Linked DNA regions of Homo sapiens. The protein of the gene in region 4 interacts with the protein of the main gene of each other region in a pairwise test. Each region holds a gene or a part of one and is shown on either strand. Other genes may lie near its edges.

What was found. Proteins that work in one complex are often made in the same cells at the same time.
Region 1: the proteins of SNCAIP (region 4) and NUDT21 interact in a two-hybrid assay, tested with the Homo sapiens proteins (one large-scale study listed by BioGRID and IntAct).
Region 2: the proteins of SNCAIP (region 4) and PTN interact in a two-hybrid assay, tested with the Homo sapiens proteins (one large-scale study listed by BioGRID and IntAct).
Region 3: the proteins of SNCAIP (region 4) and AGXT interact in a two-hybrid assay, tested with the Homo sapiens proteins (one large-scale study listed by IntAct).

Annotation. Positions count from the first base shown.
Region 1 is NC_000016.10:56,441,333-56,444,832, reverse strand, and holds part of NUDT21 (cleavage and polyadenylation specificity factor subunit 5), read left to right. Parts: intron 1-3,500. UniProt on the Homo sapiens protein: Component of the cleavage factor Im (CFIm) complex that functions as an activator of the pre-mRNA 3'-end cleavage and polyadenylation processing required for the maturation of pre-mRNA into functional mRNAs.
Region 2 is NC_000007.14:137,333,734-137,337,233, reverse strand, and holds part of PTN (pleiotrophin isoform 1 precursor), read left to right. Parts: intron 1-3,500.
Region 3 is NC_000002.12:240,867,649-240,871,623, reverse strand, and holds the start of AGXT (alanine--glyoxylate aminotransferase), read right to left. Parts: upstream 2,801-3,975; 5' UTR 2,759-2,800; coding exon 2,594-2,758; intron 2,455-2,593; coding exon 2,262-2,454; intron 981-2,261; coding exon 916-980; intron 276-915; coding exon 175-275; intron 1-174. UniProt on the Homo sapiens protein: Peroxisomal aminotransferase that catalyzes the transamination of glyoxylate to glycine and contributes to the glyoxylate detoxification.
Region 4 is NC_000005.10:122,310,902-122,315,036, reverse strand, and holds the start of SNCAIP (synphilin-1), read right to left. Parts: upstream 2,801-4,135; 5' UTR 2,753-2,800; exon of another isoform or gene 2,117-2,752; intron 1-2,116. UniProt on the Homo sapiens protein: Isoform 2 inhibits the ubiquitin ligase activity of SIAH1 and inhibits proteasomal degradation of target proteins. Isoform 2 inhibits autoubiquitination and proteasomal degradation of SIAH1, and thereby increases cellular levels of SIAH.

The DNA.
Region 1 (3,500 bases), on a different chromosome or scaffold from region 4:
TTCAACCTGTGTATCTAGATTGTCTTCCCCACTCTGTAATTAGGCAAAGACTGGCTGATGATTCTCTGTAGTAATTGAATCAGAGAACAACTAGCAATGAAAAAAGTTTAGGGGATGGGGAGAATAAGAGTTCCTATTCTGAATAGTCAGACTCTTGGACCTCTATTAGGCTGACAGAATGTTAACAATTAGGCTTGTTTTTTTTTTTTTTTGTTTTTGTTTTTTTTTTTTTGAGGCGGAGTTTCACTCTTGTCGCCCAGGCTGGAGTGCAGTGGCGTGATCTCCAATGTGAGCAATGGTTGCTCACTGCAACCTCTGCCTCCTGGGTTCAAGCGATTCTCCTGCCTCAGCCTCCAGAGTAGCTGGGATTACAGGTGCCCACTACCATGCCCAGCTAATTTTTATATTTTTAGTAGAGATGGGGTTTCACCGTGTCGGCCAGGTTGGTCTCGAACTCCTGACCTCAGGTGATCTGCCTGCTTTGGCCTCCCAAAGTGTTGGGATTACAGGTGTGAGCCACTGTCAGTCTAGGCTTACTTATTTTTTTTAGAGACAGGGTCTCACTCTGTTCCTCAGGCTGGAGGATGGTGGTGTGATCATAGCTCACTGTAACCACAAACTCCTGGGCTCAAGCAATCTTCCTGCCTCAGCTTCCTGAGTAGCTAGGACTGCAGGTATGTGCCCATGATGCCTGGCTAATTAAAGAAAAGTTTTTTATAGAGATGAGATCGTGCTATGTTGCCCAGGCTGGTCTCAAACTCCTGGCCTGAAGCAGTCCTCCCAAAGCATTGGGATTACATGCATGAGCCACCAGGCCCAGCCAACAATTAGATTTATATATCCCAGGCTGAGGGTTGGAATTCTTGTTTCTGGAAAAAGTGACCAGTCCAAGAAAAACTTCAGATACTGCCATTTGGGAGCTGTCTTCGTCTGTTTAATGTTGCTATAACAGAATACCTGAGGCTGGGTAATTTATAAAGAAAAAGATTTATTTGGCTCACCAGTTCTGGTGGCAAGATTGGGCAGCTGGTGAGGGCTTCATGGTGCTTCCACTCATGGCAGAAAGCAAAATGGGAGTGGGCATGTGCAAAGAGACATGGCAAGGGAGGAAGCAAGAGTGAATCCAGGAAGCCACACTCTTTAACAACCCTCTCTCCAGGGAACTAATCCATTCCTGATGGAGGAAGGGTATTAAACTATTCATGAAGGATCCACCTGCATGACTCAAACACCTTCCACTAGGCCCTGCCTGCCAACACTGTCACATTGGGGATCAAATTTCAACATGAGTTTGGGGGCAGGGAGACAAACCATATCCAAACCAAAGCAAGAATTTTCTATAGAAATAATGTAGTCCTGGGCCAGGCGCGGTGGCTCACACCTGTAATCCCAGCACTTGGGGAGGCCAAGGCGGGTGGATCATGAGGTCTGGAGTTTGAGACCAGCCTGACCAGCATGGTGAAACCCCGTCTCTACAAACATAAACAAATTAGCTGGGCGTGGTGGCGGGTGCCTGTAATCCCAGCTACTCGGGAGGCTGAGGCAGGAGAATCAGTTGAACCCAGGAGGTGGAGGTTGCAGTGAGCCAAGATCATGCCACTGCACGCCAGCCTGGGCAACAGAGCAAGACTTCGTCTCAAAAAAAAAAAAGAAAAAAAAATATTGTAGTCCTATCACTCATGCACACAGAGGTGACAATTAAGCATCTTGTTGCTTCTCCCTTGTGAGTACACAACCAACTATCACCAGGCTTTTGGAGAAAACTTCTTAACAAGAAAAAGATCAAAAGAAGCAAAAGGACCTCAACAGAAGCAGAAAATTCAACCATTGACAAAACTATGATTAATATTCTTGGTGAGATGAGAGGAGATTTTGCACCTGTGAAACAGTGCTATTAAAAAGACATTTTAGCCAAGAAAAACCTCATGGATATTAAAAAAATGTTGGAAGAAATGAAAAATTCAGTAAAGAGTTAAGAGGTTCATTCTACCAGAAAATAGAATGAAAAGATAAAAAGATAGAATGTAGGTAAGAATAGATAAAATTAGTGGGTCATTCTAGAAGGACCAATATAAACTATAGATAAATAGAACAGAGTAAAAGGAAGAATTAGCAAAGCATAATTAGAGAAAATTTCTCAAACCTCAAAGGGCATGAGTTTTGAGATTGAGAAGACCTACTGGCCTTGCCTCTATAGTGAATGTTTAAAGATCCACGCAAAGGCATATCATCATGACGTTTTAGATCCTACAAACGAAAATAAAAACAAAAAGATGTAAAAGCTTCCAAAGTGGGAGGTGGAGGATTGGTAAGCAGAGAGGTTAAATGCAAAACATCAAAATCAGAAATTGCATTAAACTACCCAGAAATAATTCTGGAAGCTAAGGGATGGTGGAGTGTTGTCTTTGTAATTTTGAGAGAATATAATCTCTGTCCTAGAATTTTCTAATCAAACTATAAATCAAGTGTGTGGGTAAAAGTTACTTCTAGACATGCAGAGTTTCAAAAAGTTACATCTCTTGTACCTTTTCTCAGGAAGCTACTAGAGGGTGTTCACCCCCAAAATGGAATAAAATAAGGACTCCAGCTGTGAAGCAGGGTTGAGACTATCAAGTACAGATTACAGCAGGATGATAGAAAAACGTGTCTTAGGCTGGGTGTGGTGGCTCATGCCTGCAATTTCAGCACTTTGGGAGGCTGAGATGGGCAGATCACGTGAGCCTAGGAGTTTGAGACCACCCTTGGCAACATGGTGAAAAATTAGCCTGGTGCTGTGGCTTGCATCTGTAGTCCCAGCTACTCGGGAGGCTGGGGGCAGGGGAGGCTGAGGTGAGAGAAGCGCTTGAACCCATGAGGTGGAGGTTGCAGTGAGTGGAGATCGCGCCATTGCGCTCCAGCCTGGGTGACAGATCTTGTCTTGAAAAAAGGAAAAACATGTCTTAGAAAAGATGAAATTAATAGAATAACTGACAATTGATATTTGAATTGGGAAGAAATTTAAGTTATCATGGAGAATGTGGGAAATGAATTTAGTGATAGCAAAGGAAATGAAAGTTATTAACTAAAGAATAGGACAGTTGAACAAGTAAGGAGATACGGTTTGCTAATCATTGCTCTGTTGTGACTGATCTACCGGATCATACTAACTTAAATACTGAATATTGACTTAACCAAATATTGATAATGGGAAGATGGTGGAAGAAAAAGTGTAACTAGGATGTGTGATTTTAATATCTAAATTCTCATTCATAGTAGAGGGTTATAGGCTTTTAAAAAATGTTTTTAAAATGAAAATCAAGAGGCCAGGCGCAGTGGCTCACGCCAGTAATCCCAGCACTTTGGGAGGCCGAGGCAGGTGGATCACAAGGTCAAAAGATCGAGACCATCCTGGCCAACATGGTGAAACCCTGTCTCTACTAAAAATACAAAAAAGCTGGGTGTGGTGGCGGGCACCTGTGGTCCCAGCTACTCGGGAGGCTGAGGCAGGGGAGTCGCTTGGA
Region 2 (3,500 bases), on a different chromosome or scaffold from region 4:
CCAATGTATGTACAGTTAGAGGTCAAATAACCTACAGCAGCAGTTCCCTGTCTTCAATGTTTATCAGATTAACTAGCGTCATGTGTAGGTTCCAGCTGCCTGGAGCCCATCTTCAGCAGTTCTGATTTAAGAGGTGGAATCAAGGACCCTGGACATACGACAGGGCATGTGGATACGGATGAAACATTAGAAACAGTAGCCTTAATCGCTCAATATTTGAGCTCCAAGGTCCAAAATACTGAGGTATAAACCACTGCACTTCTTAGTAGCTCTGTGACCGTGAGCAAATATTGTGGTCTTTCTTACTTCAGTGTTTTCATCTCTAACATGGGAGCACATACCTACCTTCCAGGATTGACGTCTGAGTAGTAATTGAGAAAATCAATGTGAAGTACTGAACATAGAGTCTGATTGCTGGGAGTGTTTGAGCAGGATGGTGAAAATGATGATCATGGTGAAGCAGCACCAGATGCAAGTCCTCACTTCTTCCCCCTCCTGAATTGCTTTTCTTTCTCATGCCCACTTGGCATCTGCAACAAACATACAAGCAAAATCCTAGGTGGAATTCCATGCTTCTTGAAAGGCCTCGCCCCTCCACATGCTCATACCATTTTCTTCCTTCTCTCTAAATGCAGATTGAAAATCCTTTCTTCTGGAAGAAAACATACGGAGCATGTGATCATGCTCAAGGCCTGGGGGTTGGGCAGGCAAAGTCTCCGATGCAGACTCTTTGACCTTATCCCTTCCCATAAGGTATAGGAGAGCATTTTGCATACAGAAGACTCCCAATCCAAGAGACAGGCACTTTATTGCTGACCTTAGTGATGCTCATAACCACATTCTCTCTGACCCCTGCTGATAGAGGCTTCAGTCCAGGGAAGGAGTTAAGGTTTGGAGTCAGGAACCAGCATCTCACCACAGTCCGCCTGTTGTTTGGTATGGGCTGCTGGATGTGCCACTGAATCTTCTGAAATCTTAGGTTTTTTAGCTCTAAGTGGGAAATGATGATGATGTTACTTGTTTTGCCAACCTCATAGGTTGGTGGTAAATGTCAATGGTCACGACGCAACATCTGTAAGCTCTAAACTGTTATACTGAACATGAACTGAACTTAATAAAGTCAGTGGGGCAAGTTCTGCCTTTCTGGTTTCCCAATCCTGCTATTGTCATTGTCATTTTCTCAGGACACACAGAGATTGCCTAAGTTGCTTGAAGGTAAGTTTGACTCACAAAGTGAGGAGGAGGTAAGATGTGCGACAGGAATGAAGAAAAAGAAATGAGTCATACTAAAAAAAAAAAAAAAAAGCGAGAAGACATCTTAAATGAGGCTGAACTGAAACAGGCATGCTTTCTTTTACCTCAGATTATGTTATATTTCCTTCTGAAGTGTCTTAAAAGCTACATGTCACATTTTTTAATTGGTTATTCTCACTAAATATAAGCCTTAGTAATTGGCTAACAGCAGTTCATTTACATGATAGCTGGATAACTGTGCTTCTCAAACTTTCATGTTCATACCAGTCACCCAGGGTCTTTGCCAAAATTCAGTAGGTCTCCAATGAAATCTCAGAGTCTGCTTTTCTGCCAAGCTCCCAGGTGACTGCAGTACTGCTAGCTTGGCGACCTCTCTTTGAGTAGCAAGCCACAACAGTTTAATTCAACAAACTTGAGGGAACAGGAGACAAATCAGAATGCTCCAGTCATGATGTCCATAGCTTAATAAAAATGATGAGGATCATTGTCAATATGTTATATGCAAAAGCTTCTAAAACTTACATCTTTGTGACCAAATAATATTTACAATGTATGATTATTTATGAAAGAAAATTGCAGACACCACCTGATTTGCTATTGACTTCACTGAAGTTCCCTTAAGTGTAAAAAGCCCCTGGCCAGATGTTGCACTTGGGCCTCCTTACCAGTGCTTCTGCTGGGGTCTTTCTCGGAGAGGGTGTAAGTGATCCAAATGTTGCCTTCTTCATTTGCTTTAAAAGCTAATGAAAAGTGTTTAGAAAACTTCATTCTTTTTTTTTTATTATTATTATACTTTAAGTTTTAGGGTACATGTGCACAATGTGCAGGTTAGTTGCATATGTATACATGTGCCATGCTGGTGTGCTGCACCCATCAACTCGTCATTTAGCATTAGGTATATCTCCTAATGCCATCCCTCCCCCCTCCCCCCACCCCACAACAGTCCCCAGAGTGTGATGTTCCCCTTCCTGTGTCCATGTGTTCCCATTGTTCAATTCTCACCTATGAGTGAGAACATGTAGTGTTTGGTTTTTTGTCCTTGCGATAGTTTACTGAGAATGATGATTTCCAATTTCATCCATGTCCCTACAAAGGACATGAACTCATCATTTTTTATGGCTGCATAGTATTCCATGGTATATATTTGCCACATTTTCTTAATCCAGTCTATCATTGTTGGACATTTGGATTGGTTCCAAGTCTTTGCTATTGTGAATAGTGCCGCGATAAACATACATGTGCATGTGTCTTTATAGCAGCATGATTTATAGTCCTTTGGGTATATACCCAGTAATGGGATGGCTGGGTCAAATGGTATTTCTAGTTCTAGATCCCTGAGGAATCGCCACACTGACTTCCACAATGGTTGAACTAGTTTACAGTCCCATCAACAGTGTAAAAGTGTTCCTATTTCTCCACATCCTCTCCAGCACCTGTTGTTTCCTGACTTTTTAATGATTGCCATTCTAACTGGTGTGAGATGGTATCTCATTGTGGTTTTGATTTGCATTTCTCTGATGGCCAGTGATGGTGAGCATTTTTTCATGTGTTTTTTGGCTGCATAAATGTCTTCTTTTGAGAAGTGTCTGTTCATGTCCTTCGCCCACTTTTTGATGGGGTTGTTTGTTATTTTCTTGTAAATTTGTTTGAGTTCATTGTAGATTCTGGATATTAGCCCTTTGTCAGATGAGTAGGTTGTGAAAATTTTCTCCCATTTTGTGGGTTGCCTGTTCACTCTGATGGTAGTTTCTTTTGCTGTGCAGAAGCTCTTTAGTTTAATTAGATCCCATTTGTCAATTTTGTCTTTTGTTGCCATTGCTTTTGGTGTTTTAGACATGAAGTCCTTGCCCATGCCTATGTCCTGAATGGTATTGCCTAAGTTTTCTTCTAGGGTTTTTATGGTTTTAGGTCTAGCGTTTAAGTCTTTAATCCGTCTTGAATTAATTTTTGTATGAGGTGTAAGGAAGGGATCCAGTTTCAGCTTTCTACATATGGCTAGCCAGTTTTCCCAGCACCATTTATTAAATAGGGAATCCTTTCCCCATTGCTTGTTTTTCTCAGGTTTGTCAAAGATCAGATAGTTATAGATATGTGGTGTTATTTCTGAGGGCTCTGTTCTGTTCCGTTGATCTATATCTCTGTTTTGGTACCAGTACCATGCTGTTTTGGTTACTGTAGGCTTGTAGTATAGTTTGAAGTCAGGTAGCGTGATGCCTCCAGCTTTGTTCTTTTGGCTTAGAATTGAC
Region 3 (3,975 bases), on a different chromosome or scaffold from region 4:
TCTTTAGACTCAGCCCAGAGCAAAGAGGACCTGGGAGGTGCCTGCACCCCATACCATGTGACAGAGGCTGGGGTGGGGACCAGGGGCAGAAGGACCAGAGGGACCAGTGCCCACCCCTCCCCATAGCCTGGCTCTGAGCTGTGCTCCAGTCCACCGCCCTGGGGCCAGGCTCACCTGTGGCAGAGTTCCCCGAAGCCATCAAGGGGCTGCAGCACGCCGGTGGACGACTCCCCGTGGGTTAAGAACAGCAGCACTGGCTTGTGCTGGGCCAGGCCCTGAGGAAGCAGGGACGGCTGTGGGTGGAGCTCAGAGGGGCAGGGGCCAGAACACCCCCACAAACCCCCCATGGGTGGCACAGCTCCAGGTAGCAGGGGCTGGGCCTGCCTCTACTCCTCCCTGATGGTGTGCATGGGAGGAGGAGGCTGGGGCATCTCCGCTCCGGGACAAGGGCTTTTCCAAGAACAGGACTTTGGTGCAGAGATGGAGGAGGGTGCCCCCAGCCTGTTGCCTGGCCTGTGAGGGCTGTTGCTAGATGGACTGAGTCCCCACACTCCGGGTAGGCTGAGGTTGACTTCAGCCCACAGGGTGGGGTATCCTGAGTGTCAGGGACATGTTCTGCAGCCTAGACTCCAACTCGGCCTCCTGCCTCCAGCCTCTCTGGCCCTGCCTACAGGACCAGGCTCCTGACTCAGTTTCCCTGCCAGACAGAAGCCTCCTTACCAGTCTTCCCACCATTCCCAGGTAATGGAACCCTCCCCTGTGGCCGCTCACCAGATGCTAGGATGGGCTGAGGGTCAGCCACCAGCCTCCCGGCCATGATCCCACCCTGCTGGCTGGCCAATTCCAGGCAGCCCCTGAGCCAGCATGCCCACTCCCACCTCCTCCCGGCCCTGACCCCCACCCCGGGTCCCCTACCTCCTCCACCTCCTGCAGTGTGTAGTGGCCTCCAGGGTCCTTGGTCATCGGGTGCACTCGGGCTCCTGGGTGCAGGACAGAGTGGGCCGTGAGTGTCCCGCACACACTGTAGAAGCCAGTGTTGGGCACCCGTGGCCCTGCTGAGCAGGGCCCTGTGAGGGCTGGACCCCACCCACCGTGGCACCCTGGCTGCCTGCCTGAAGAGGAGGGTGGACTCTGCCCAATGAGAGCCTCTCTGTGTGTAGAGCCAGGGCCATCTTGACCCCCCTGCTGTTGGAGCCAACGCTCCTGGGGCACTCTTGACAGAGCTCAGCTCAAATGCCCTTTCTCAGGCCACACTGACCAGTGCCTCCCCAAGCAGAGAGTGAGCTCCCGGGAGTCAGGGCTGCACCTGGCCCAGGGCTGGCACAAAGAGTGTACCTGGTCCAGGGCTGGCACACCACAGGTGTGATGGATGACAGACTGAAGGATGAGGGGTGAGTGAGGCAGCAGCCTTGACCTCTGTTGGAGCTGGGGACTCCAGGAATCAGGCCCTCACCCCCTCCCTGTCTCTGCCCTATCCTGTGTGCTGTTCAGGGCCAGGTTGTGGGAGGGGAAGAACCTGCGGCCAAGGGGACAGAATGGGGAAAAGGGAAGCCATATACCACAGGCATCTGAGCCTGCGTGCCCTGATGTCCACTTGGGGTCCTGGCCTCTGCCGACCCTGGGTCCCCTTGAAAAGTTTGTGGACTTGGGGTTGGGACCCTCTTGGCTGTTGCGGTCGCGTATTAACCAGCATGGCCATTGTGGAGCTCACCAAGCTGATGTCCCTCAATGCCACAATCAATCATTAAACCCAGGGCACACTCCTGCTCCTGTGTCTCTCCCAGAAAAGTGTACTCCGGAGGCGAATACTCTGCCCATACCTCCATATTTTGTGTATCACATCAAGATTCCAGAAGGAAGGCTGCTGAGATTTGAGGGGAGGCTTCAGCTTCTGAAACCCCACCCTGTCACAAAGCAGAGCTGGTGCCTGGGGCCCTGGACAGCGGCCGGGGCTCTCAGGAGTGTGTGCTGGGACCAGAGGCTTCCCTGTAGTTCCGTCCTGCACATGCTCCAGAAACAGCTCAAGGAGACTGGGGGGATCGGGGCACCTGTGCTGCTCCCAGCCCTATCAGAGTCAGGCCTCATGAGTGCCCGACACCGCCTGGAGGAGGCAGTGGGCTGGCAGGAGGTTCGTGCGCACAGGGCCACAAGGTGGGTAAGCGCTCACCCAGGAACGGGGGCTGCCAGCTTCAAACAGAGGGAGGCCAGGGAGGCCTTGAAGGATGGATCCAGGGCCATCCCCACCTGGGCCTCTCCCTTACCTATGCGCTCCCCGATGTCCACGGCTCGCTGCCCCCAAATGCCATTGGCCCCAACCAGGAAGGAGTCCCCAGGCTCCAGCACATTGACCAGGGCGGCCTCCAGGGCACAGTGTCCCGAGCCAGAGATGACCAGTGTGAGTGGGTTCCTGGTCTGGAACACGTACTGGATGCCTTCCTTGATCTCGTCCATGATCTGCATGCGGGTGGTATAGGGTGAGACCCAGGCTCCCCGCCTCCCCAAGTGAGGAGGCAGTGACCCCCTTCCCTCGTCCACGATCTGTGGGTGGGAACATGGGTGAGACCCAGGCCCCCCGAGTGACCCCCACTCCTACCTGGTACATATCCTTGCTCATGGACCCGATCATCTGCAGCCCCCCGGCTGCCATGATGCGAGGAGGCAGGTTGGAAGGACCAGGCCCCAGCAGGAGCTGGTTGGGGATGGAGAGGGGCTTGAGCAGGGCCTTGGGGGGGGTCACCAGCAGCTTGTGAGAGGCCATGGTCCGCACCCAACCTGCCGCTCGGGAACCTGGGGCTGCACTGGCCTTGGCCAAAGCCTGGAATATTTCCCAGCAGGGCGGACACAGAGGTGAGAGGTGAGGATTGGTGGATGGGCTTCCGTGGCAGCCCTGCCTTTTGTTCCCTGAGGCTTATCTGTGCTTGTGCTGCGGGTCACGGCCAGGCAGCAGGGGACGAAGCCCTCAGGCAGAGGGAGCCCCCAGGGCTGAGTGACAGAAAAACAGAGTGTGACAAAGCTGTCCTCACCCCAGCCCTCCTCGCTCCCACTCTGAGTCCTGCACGTCCAGCCCCTCTTATTCTGCTTAGCTCAGGGGTGAGAGAAGTGTTTCTTAAAGGGTCGGAGCACAGATAATTGAGGCTTGGCAGGCCCTGTGGTCTATGTTGCAACAACTCAACCCTGCTGCGTGCTTGCAAAGCAGCTGCCAGAGGTGTGGGCGTGTTCCTATAAAACTTTATTTACAAAAAGCAGGTGGCAGGCCAGATTGGGCCCATGGACTGTGGTTTGCTGACCCTGGCGCAGCTGATGGGAAGGCTTGTAAACCAAAAATAAAATTCGAAGGCCCCCCAGCAACCATCTGAATGGGGTTCCCTGTCCGCCAGGGTGCTCTAAACTTTAACCCGGAAGACGTTCAGGCCATGCCACATCATAACCCCCAGCATTAACATCGACATAGACCTTAAGTCTGATAGGAAGCATTTACCATCTATTTTCTCTCTAAATCCCGCTACCTGAAGGCATCATCTGCTCCCTGCAACCCCTATTTCATAACCCAGACACTCCTTTCTGCTGATAATAATTCTTCAGTCAGTTGCCAATCAAAATATGTTTAAATCTACCTATGACCTGGAAGCCCCCCAATTCAAGTTGTCCCGCCCTTCCAGATGGAACCAATGTAAATCTCCCATGTATTGATTGATGCCTCATATCTCCCTAAAATGTATAAAAGCAAGCTGTGCCCCGACCACCTTGGGCCCTTGTGGTCAGGGGTGCACCCTTGAGCTTGGCAAGGATGTCCTCCCTCCTGAGGCTGTACCACGGGTGCATCCTTAGCCTTGGCAACAAAAACTTTCTAAATTAATTGAGACCTGTTTGAGGTACTTTTTGGTTTACAGGCTCAATTTAGCAAGCAAACCTGCATGGTATACAGACACACACAAGGCAGGGGTTGCACAGTGAGTTTCAGCATGCTGCATTCCA
Region 4 (4,135 bases):
TCTCTCCTCAGAATTCCTTTTCAATTACTATTTAGCATCTTAGGCACTCAATTATGAAATGTGTTCTTCGATGTTTAGTATCATTTAATTTTCCATGGGTCCTATTTCCTATGAAAATGTTCCTTACGAAAAGACTATGGATTTTAAATTGCTGTATTACAAATAAGCACAAAGTAAATGCACGATAACTATTTAGGAATCAATTAGTACTTTCCCAGGGCCTAGCTATCAGTCTTATCAATTAAAAATTATTTTAACACATATTTTGATCATTAATTTCAAAAACGTAAAAAACCGCTAAGATGCAAACCATAAAATATAAATCTAGTTACCTAATCTATAAAGTGAAAAATCATGCATAGTACATATGATACTAGCAAACAAGTTTTTGATTCATTTTCCATAAATAACTTCCTGCAAGTGAATCTGCATATAAATCAAATGGGCACAAGAAAATAAGTATATAAGGGTAAAAGTTTCACAGAAGCAACTATTTGATTTTCACCAGGATATCATTTTTCTCCCAAGACACATATTTCTCCTATGTGGTTTGCAACTGTAACCTGACAAACTGCCAAAAACAAAGCTTCTATTCTAAGAGTGTTACTGATTCTCTTGTTGCTATTCAATTAGATTTTGCATTTAAAAGAGAAATTCCCTTGTGTTTCCTATAATGATGCACCTGCTCCTTGGGAGATTTCCTCTTTTGACAAGAAATGCCTTAAATCTGGCAAGAAAAACAGCTCCAGGCTTTTTCTGCTAATATCAAAGATCATTTGTTTGTATTAGATGTTTGTGTGGGTTTCCCTTAAGAGCAGTAAAGTACTGCTACAATTTCTTCCAAAACAATAGCACGCACAAAGTTTCTTGGCTTGCATTTCCACTGTACACCTGCACCAGAACAACTGTCTGGAATTAGGAAAGTTGTGACAGAGTAGACAGAGAAATGCATTTGCTTTAGTCACTTCCTTTTGGATATCAACAAATGGTAACCGTCAAATTCATGAATGCAGCATCATTTCAAATCTACTATCTGTAACTTTTCTTCATGAAATGCTTGCTACGGAGAAAATGAAATTTACATTCAAAATTATACCCCTTCTTTTCAAAATCCCATGCTATATTTTATTTCTAACTGAGGTGTCCAAAAGATCCTTAAGAGAAGCACTATCTTTTACTTTCTGATTCCAGACCTGTTAATGCATACATATTTAGTTATGGGTAATCCTCAGTTAATACTCCCTTTCCAGAGAGACTTCCGCGATCAGTACCGAAATATTGCACCTTCCAAAAAGTCTTGAGGACTGCTTAAAGGTGTCTCCTTGTACTCTAACCATGCTGAATGTAATTTAACATTGAGATGCATCAGAAACAGTCAATAGACTTTCTCTCCCAGATGTGTACACATTAGCATACTGCTTTCCTACACCTTGTTCTTTGCCTTTTAAATTTTCAATATGTACAAATGAAATACAGATTTCAACCCATTCCCAATTGGGATGTCTGCTCCATAAAAGAAAAATAGGTTTTTCCCTTCCTACAGATTCAGCAACGAAAGTAGTGCTTGAAAATTACGTGTTTAGAGTGACACCTTGGAGAACTGACATACTGTGCACACATGTAATCCTCATAAACTTCCCCAGACAGCCCTTATTTCATTTTGCAAACTGCACCCTGGCCAGGCTCCACGGCACGTGGTGTGTGGCGAGACTGTCCTGCAGCAGTTCTCCCGTCCTCCGGGCTCTTTGATGGGCACTTGTCAGTAACAGCCAAGAGGAATCCGATCCTGCCTCCAGCAAGTGAAAAGGGGCACCGACAGTAATGCTTCCTTAATTAACTTTCCCAAGGAAAGCAACGTTCCCACAGGAAAAAACAACACGTTTCCCCCCTCCTAGCCGTCCATTGAAAATGAGCAACAATGCTGTTGCCTTTTTGTTTCCTAAGACTTTCTTCGCTGCAAGCAGTAGCGTGTTCCTCAAAGAATGCTAGTATTTCCTGTGGAAACTGTATGGCTGCCAGTAATGGCTCATAATTTTCCCTCTTTTCTCTTCGTAAAAATGAAATAAACAAAATGTGGCCTTTGACAATTAGCTAAAATTGGGTTCACCCCACTTACCACCTGCAGATGAAAGTCATCGCCAAGAGACAAGGCCAAGAGAGAAACATTCCCCTCTGAAATCCACGCGGACCAGCCTGGGACGCAGAACAGCACTAGAGGGAGGCTGGCGGAGCCCGGGCTGGACAGGGCAGTCGGGGAGCTGGTGCTGATGAGCGAGGGGCGGCAGCAACACCAGACGTCCCTTTTCTACAGCTATTATTACCGTTGTTAGTACTGTCGCTATTACTATTACTTCGCCCCTCCTTATCTCAGCTTTTCCGAGCCGCGGAACTGCCCATCCCTGCCTGCGATAAGATCCCGGGTGACAGCAAGAATAAGAACCACATGAGGCGGGCAAATGAAAAGAACAATCCTTTGGAAACCGAGGCGGGGGTTGTTTCCCCCTTTCCCCAGTAAAGCAGCCGCTGCCGCCACCACTGTTACTGTTACTATAGAGACCTCCCCCTCAAACCCTTTCTGCAGAGGCGCCTCTGCTGCCCGGAGCAGCCGAGACTCGCGGCACAAAGGGGTCCCGGGGCTTGGGGAGCACGGGGCGACACCCGCCGGGGTCGCCTGGTGCAAACTTGGAAAGGCTGAGCCGCTGGCTGCCCGCCTCCCGCCTCCCCGCGGCGTCCGCTTGGGACCTGGACTCACCCGGGGCGCCCGGCGCGCCGGCGGCTCAGGAGCGCGAAGGGACTGACTGACCGACCGACGGACCGCAGCGGCAGGAGCAGAACAGCCTCAGCCGAAGTAGGCGGGCGGTGGAGGCGCTGCCGCGGCCCCGCTACGTCACAATGCGGCCCGGCCGCGGGCGCCGCTCCCCGGGCCCCCCAACGGGCGCGCGCGGGCGGGGGCAGCCTGGGCGGCCGCGGCCCGAAGCCGGCGCTGGGGGACAAGGAACGCAGCGCGGGCGCCCGGCCGGGGACGGGGGCGCGGCCACCACTGCCACTGCGGAGGCTGCCGGGGCCGCCGCGCCCTCAGGCTGCGCTGCGCCCCTGCGGCCGCCCCCAGGCCAGCGAGCCCCGCTCGGCCTGACTGACAGCGACCCTCCCCGCGGCGCCCCCGGCTCGGCCCACGCCCCTCCCTCGCCGCTTCCTCACCAGGGATCCCCCGGCCTGCCCGCCGGCTCCTGTCCACGAACCTGCTCTTTCTTTACCTTTCGCTCTTTTTACCTCGACTGCCGTTGCTTTTCCCCAGCTGGGGCTCTCCTCTCCTCCCCGCCTACTTTTTGTCCGCGCTTCCCACTTTTCTCCTCCTGCCCCCCACCCCCTTCCTTGCTTCTTGGCCTCTCCCCCTGGAAATCGCCCCCTCACCGTGATCCAAGCGTTAACCGCTGCCATCTCATTGGTCCCCAGACCATTCCAGGGTTCCAGCATAAACTGGGAGAAGAGACTCGGGAAGGCGGGGAACGGAAGGTGGGCATTGCCCTGGGAAACTCATGTCTGAGAAGCCTTTTGGCAGAGTATTTTGCGTTGGCACGGAGTCTTCACCCCCACCCCTCCCCCCGAAGCTCGCCCACCCCTGAGGACGTGGCCAAGGAGAGGAGGGCAAGGGTGGCTTTGCCTGCCTGGAATGTTCTGTGCTCAAGTGTGGGTGGATGGAGAAGATGTTAGGCTGAAATAAAGACTTTTTAATTCAACGACGTTTCAGTGTACCAATGGCCCTACAGTAATATTATCTTTACTTTTATTGTCTCTTAATTGTTGAGGGATTGGGGGTGGGAGGCTGCTGGATGAGGCGTAAGCAACGCCTGCAGTGGTGACTACTTCTTTCCTTATTTCCGAAATGAAATCAGGGGTTGTGGAAGCATTTATGGTAACCTTGGCTCGCGACTGTCTCGCTGTTGCCCTCTGGAAAGCTTTAAATGGTCTTTGAGAAATCTCTTTCCCAGGCGAGATGACTTGGAGAAGTTCACTCAGCAAAGCCATTGAGGACCACACTCTTGTTCCAGGGTATGGCTGCTTGCCTGATGCTGCCCCAGAGAAAAGCATGAGGAAGTAAGTCTTGGTCAGTTTAGAGGCATCCTCATTCCCATGC